Linked DNA regions of Homo sapiens. The protein of the gene in region 1 interacts with the protein of each later gene in a biochemical or structural test. Each region holds a gene or a part of one and is shown in the gene's direction. Other genes may lie near its edges.

The links. The genes of interacting proteins can lie anywhere in the genome.
Region 2: the proteins of NAIP (region 1) and HPCA form a complex in vitro, tested with the Homo sapiens proteins (one study listed by BioGRID).

The regions. Positions count from the first base shown.
Region 1 is NC_000005.10:71,015,340-71,018,839, reverse strand, and holds part of NAIP (baculoviral IAP repeat-containing protein 1), read left to right. Parts: intron 1-3,500. UniProt on the Homo sapiens protein: Anti-apoptotic protein which acts by inhibiting the activities of CASP3, CASP7 and CASP9. Can inhibit the autocleavage of pro-CASP9 and cleavage of pro-CASP3 by CASP9.
Region 2 is NC_000001.11:32,889,491-32,892,318, forward strand, and holds part of HPCA (neuron-specific calcium-binding protein hippocalcin), read left to right. Parts: intron 1-2,828. UniProt on the Homo sapiens protein: Calcium-binding protein that may play a role in the regulation of voltage-dependent calcium channels. May also play a role in cyclic-nucleotide-mediated signaling through the regulation of adenylate and guanylate cyclases.

The DNA.
Region 1 (3,500 bases):
GAAGTCAGCCAAGAATACAGTTCCCTGGCTGGTTAGGCTGCTTTGGCAAAAATGAAAGTAACTAAAAAAGAGCCTGTGTTGCCAAGTCCACCAATTTCCTTCTGTAAAGGGAAGGAACATGATGCCAAAGAGGAGTTGGGCAGATATTTCTTCTGATGGGAATGTGACCCTCATCGGGTAGATAATCACCAACGAAACTACAGTGGGAGGGCATCAAGAGACAACTGAAACAGGGAACTACACAAGAGTGAAGTTGCCTGTGGACTGACAGAGCTTCCTGCAGAACCACTGCTGGGTTGGATATACATGAATGACAAAGGAGCTCTTTTCCTTGTATTAGGTACTGTCAAATGTACCTTCAAATGAAAGGGTGTGTTTGGTCTTAATTAGCTGAATTCGTTGAAGATCTTCAATTAGCTGCAGCTTTTGCCGGAATGTGTTTAGCTGGGCAAATTCCAAATCGGTTGAGCTGCACAAAGGTGGCAGTACATAAAACATATCTTGTAAAGGGGAACTGCCCAATTCCACCCATAATTGTTAGAAGAAATACTCCCTAGAGGTTACTGAAATGTTGAGAATGCAAACAAACACATTTGGACTGGTTCTGTGATGAAACTAAGGTATCCCTTAATTTTATGTCTTTGACTTAAGTGATGATTGTTGCTGTGATAAGAGGGCCTCTACCTTCGTAGACTTTTTGTATGACCCTACTACTGGGGGAGCAGGATGAAGTGAAAGCCTGTTGAAGACTTACTAGTTCCTTTGCTCCAAATTGTGCTGAATGATGAACAGATTAATATCATTCAAAAGAAAGGAGGCCGGGTGTCCTGGCTTACACCTGTAATCCCAGCACTTTGAGAGGCTGAGGCAAGAGGATTGCTTAAGCCCAGGAATCTGAGGCTGCAGTGAGCTAGAATCATGCCACTGCACTTGTACTACAGCCTTGGCAACAGAGTGAGCCCTTGTCTCCTATAAAAAAAAAAAAAAAAAAAAGGAAAGGGCTGGGCATGGTGGCTCACACCTGTAATCCTAGCACATTGGGAGGCCGAGGCGGGTGGATCACCTGAGGTCAGGAGTTCGAAACCAGCCTGGCCAACATGGTGAAACCCTGTCTCTACTAAAAATAAAAAAATTAGCCGGGCATGGTGGCACATGCCTGTAATCCCAGCTACTCAGGAGGCTGAGGCAGGAGAATTGCTTGAACCTGGGAAGCAGAGGTTGCGGTGAGTCAAAATTTTGCCACTGCACTCCAGCCTGGGTGAACAGAGCAAGACTCCATCTCACTTTGTTGCCCAGGCTGGTTTCAAATTCCTGGGCTCAAGCAATCCTCCCACCTTAGCCTCCCAAAGTGCTGGGATTACAGGTGTGAGCCACTGTGCCCAGTCAAGATTTCTAATGTATCCTAGTCTTGATGAATTAAACAAATAAACCTTTAGGATGATGCAAAAGCAGAATCTACAGTCACTTTAAAGCAGTGTGATGTAAAGAAAAGGGTGGCAGAGTCTCTTGGTGCTATGGGACCCAAGGACATTTACATTGGTGTGGATAAAATGCCCGGAGTGGTGAAAAACTTTATTGTCATTGTTGGACCATGGTGCATAATGTATTGTTATACCTGCTAATAAAAAATTAAACAGCAATTAACTTAGTTTAGTATGACAATACAACTGTAAGTTTAAGAGTGAAAAATGGGCCAGGTGTGGTGGCTCAGGCCTGTAATCCCAGCACTTTAGGAGGCTGAGGTGGGAGGATCACTTGAGCCCAGGGGTTTGAGACCAACTTGGCAACATAGTGAGACCCCCCCCACCAACACCCCCAACACGCTTGTCTCTATAAAAAATGGTGGTGTGCTCCTGTCGTACGAGCTGCTTGGGAAGCTGAGGTGGGAGGATCGCTTCAGCCCTTGAGGTTGAGGCTGCAATGGATGGTGATCAAGCCACTGCACTCCAGCCTAGGTGACAGAGCAAGACCCTGTCTCAAGAAAAAAAAAAAGTGAAAAATGTCCATATAAAAACTTGCACACTAATGTGCACAGCGGTATTATTTATAATAGCCAAAAAGCGTAAACAATCCACACATCCATCAACTGGGTTGAGGAATAAAATATGGTATATGTGATAATAAAGTGTGGTATATCCACATAATGAAATATTATTTGACAATGAAAAGGAATATGAAGTACTAAAACAATACAACATGGATGAATTTCGCTTCCTTTTTTTGTTGTTCTTTTTATTTTATTTTTTAAGCACCTCTACCAACATGAACATTTTGCAAAGTGAAAGCAACCAGACACAAAGGACCACGTACTGTATGATTCAATTTAAATGAAATGTCCCCAGTAGGCAAATCTATAGAGACAGAAAGTAACATAGTAGTTGCCTAGGGCTAGGAGGGTAATGGGGGACATGGAAAGCAACTGCTAATGGGCACAGCGTTTCTTTCTGGGGGGATGAAAATGTTCTAAAATTGATTGTGGTGGTGGTTGTGCATGTTTATGAATATGCTGATATTTATTGAACTGTACATTTTATTTACTTTTTTTAGAGACAGAGCCTCACTCTGTTGTCCAGGCTGGAGTATAGTACTGCAATCATAGCTCCCCGCAGCTTCATATTCCTGGGCTCAAGAGATCCTTCCACCTCAGCCTCCCACGTAGTTAGGACTACAGGCACATGCCACCATGCCCCGCTAAGTTTTCGTTTTCTTAAAAAAAAAGTTTTTTTAGAGACAGGGTCTAGCTATGTTGCCCAGGCTGATCTCAACTCCTGGTCTCAAGCAATCCTCCCGCCTTGGCCTCAAGAGCATTGGGGTTATAGGTATGAGTCACCGCACCCTCAGTTGTTCATTTTAAATGGGTGAATTTTATGATGTGTGAATTATATTTCTTTCTCTTTTTTTGAGATGGAGTTTCACTCTTGTCGCCTAGGCTGGAGTGCAGTGGTGCGATCTCGGCTCACTGCAACCTCTGCCTCGTGGGTTCAAGCAATTCTCCTGCCTCAGCCTCCCGAGTAGCTGAGATTATAGGCATGCGCCACCATGCCCAGCTATTTTTTTTGTATTATTAGTAGAGATGGGGTTTCACCATGTTGGCAAGGCTAGTCTTGAACTCCTGGCCTCAGCCCCCCAAAGTGCTGGGATTATAGGTGTAAGCCACCACAGCCAGCCCCAACTAGCTGGGACTACAAGCACGTGCCACCACACCTGACTAATTTCTTTTTTTTTTTTTTTTTGTATTTTTAGTAGAGATGGGGTTTTGCCATGTTGGCCAGGCTGGTCTCAAACTCCTGACCTCAGGTGATCCACCCACCTCGGCCTCCTAAAGTGCTGAGATTACAGGCATGAGCCACTGCTCCCGATGGATTATATTTCAATATAATTCAATTATGCAATATAATTGCATAATTGTTATCATCTCTCCCTGATATATTATCGGAATGGATGTGACATCTGAATGGGGATGCTGTTGAGGAAAGAGATTTCATGAAATGTACAGTGAG
Region 2 (2,828 bases), on another chromosome or scaffold:
TTTCCCACAGTTGCTTCATCATTATCAGTGTGTGTGTGCGTGTGTGCACACTAGTGTGTAACATTTTCTTGCTGTTCTGAACATTGGCCCTTTACCCCTGGATACATTAGGATATATTTCCTAAAAATAAGCACATTCTCTTACATAACCCATAATATGATTACCAAAGCCAGGATATTTAACATAGAAACAATGCTATTATCTAATCTACCAACCATATTCCAATTTTGCCAACTGTCTCCATAATGTTCTTTATAGCATTTTTGGCCCTGACCTGGGGTCATGCATTGCATCTAGTTCTCATGTCTCTTTAGCCCCCTTTAATCTGGAATAGCTCCTCATCCTTTCTTTATCTTTTATGAATTGACATTTCTGCAGAGCACAGTCCAGCTATGTCTAGTTGATCCTCATTTACACCAGAGGAAACGGATGCTCAGAGAGATAAAGGCACTTGCTTGAGGCCACACAGCCTGTGTGAGTGGGCCATCTGGCACCACTGTCTACATTCCATCTGGATACCCAGCCATCTTCTAACTAATTGATTGAGGGCCCACTATGAGCCTAGCATTGAGTGAGGTGCTCATGAGCTCAGTGCGTGCTTACAACAACCCCATGAGGCTCAGAGAGGTGAGGTGATGTGCCCAAAATCACACAGCACATAAGTGGAGAAAAGCTCTGGCTGGCCACTACTTAGAGCTGTCTACTGAGAGGGCTCTGGACTCATAGCCAGGAGGTCTGGCTTCCAGTTCTGGAAGTGGCCTTCAATCTTAGGTTGCTCATCTGTACGCTCATACTGACTTCACAAGGAGATTTAAGGACCGGATATAAATGCCTTTTGTTAGTACAAGTTTAAGTGTGCTGCATGTTAGCTTTATTTCAGAAACCACCCATCCCCTCAGCCCAGCCTTGAAGATGGCCAGGGCTCTGGCTCTATTTTATCTGCCTTTTTCCTAAGGCTTTACACATTTTTTCACCTGTAAAGTGGGGGTGTTAATCCCCTGCCTCACAAGGCTATTGCAGGGATAGAGTGAGATAAGGACTTGAGCGGAAGGCTTGGCATATAATTGGTACTTGGTAGACATTAGCAATTGTCTGTTATTATTTTCTCCTCTGCACATCCTCTGCTCTAGCCAGAAGGGCCTTTTCAGCATCTTTGAAATGTGCCCTGACTAATCCTGTCACGCAGCTTTGCACAAGCTCTTGCCCCCTTTCCTTCTGCATCTCTGAATCCTTTCCCTTCTGGTCCCTCAGCTCCACAGACTGCTGCCCCAGCCACTGCTGGACTCTTGACTTTGGCTTCTCCTCTTGCTAAGGTCTGGGTCTTCTCTCCAGGTGGAGATGTGATGCCCTCCCCATACCTATGGCTAGAGAGGGGAAAGCCCTAATGTTTGCCATGGACTCCTGTGAGCCAGGCATTTGACTCTTTAGTTGCTTGATGGTAGGGGGATCTGGGGGTCCTGATGGTAGGGCCAGGTGGCCAGAATGGTGGAGGATCACCCGGACATGGACAGCAGCTGGGTACTGACTATCTGAAGGAATGTTGGCATTTTACCACTTAGTGTGTTGCACTGGTGTGTACTGGTAAACCCCAGTCCTGCTGGAGCCACCACGCCCGGGTGTCAGTCAAGCTAGACCCATTCCCTGGGCATCCTCAGGACCCCTTTCTGGTGGCCTCTGCTATCCAGACCCTGGCTTCTTTTAGGGCGGCCCGGGGGCCCCAGACAGCTGGTGCACACAGAGCTCTGCAAGCCCCAGTGCCTGATTAATGACAAGTTGGCTCCCATGAAACCATGAGTAAGCAGCAATTCCAGACAATTAGTTAGGAGGCCCAGGAGAAGGCTATCACAGGGTTACTGGTCACTGGCCCAGTTCTTCTCAAGACCCAGCCCTCTGCCAGGTAATGGACACACTGGAGAGGAAGAGACTGCGCCTCTTGGGGCTCCCACTCTGGTGGGGGAGACAGATGTGTAGGTCACACTGACAAGCTCAGTGACAGGGGTGTAAAGGTGTCATCTGGGAACCAGGGGACTACTGAGTGGCAGGGAAGACTTGAGGATGTGGAGGATGAATAATGACTATAATATGAGCTGCTGTTTACTGACCACCCACTCTAGCCAGCCACGGTTCCTCACACATAATCTCATTTAATCTGAGGAAACTGAGGCTCACAGATACATATATGTCCAAGGCTACACAGTTAGTGAGTAGTTCAACCAGGACACCACTCCAGGTCCATCTAACTTTAGAAACTTGAGACTACCAGACCCCTCTATTCATGTGCTGGTCAGACAGGTAGTGATATCCAGTCACAACTGTGGCTACCATTCATTGAGCAGTTACTACAGACCGGGTCTAATGCTAAAGGCCCTGCTGATTATCACCACCCCACACTGCCCAAGCATCCCTCCAGCAGCTAAGAGGGAACAGGTACAAATCGAGTCTCTGCCATCAATTTCCTTCTGAGCCTCAGTTTCTTATCTGGAAAATGGGGATCATGATACCTGTTTTTCAGGGCTTGCGTGAGGTTTAGAAATAGTGCATGTGAAGTACTTGGCACAGAGCGGGCCCCTGATAAGTGGTACTTAGTATCGTTATTCCAGGCAAAGACTGTAAATGCTGGAGAATCTGAAGGGCCAGGGGTGTTTGGCTGTTGGCAGAATCACCCAGCCAGGGGAGACCTGATGGAGGAGGGTCAGCAGTGGACAGATTGTAAAGCGTCTTAAATCCCAAGGGCTGAATGGTTTGAACTTGGTACAGAGGGCAGTGGGAAGTGCCAATGGCTTTTAAATAGGGAAGTCCCTGCCTGGTCCCAGGTTCTGGGGATATGG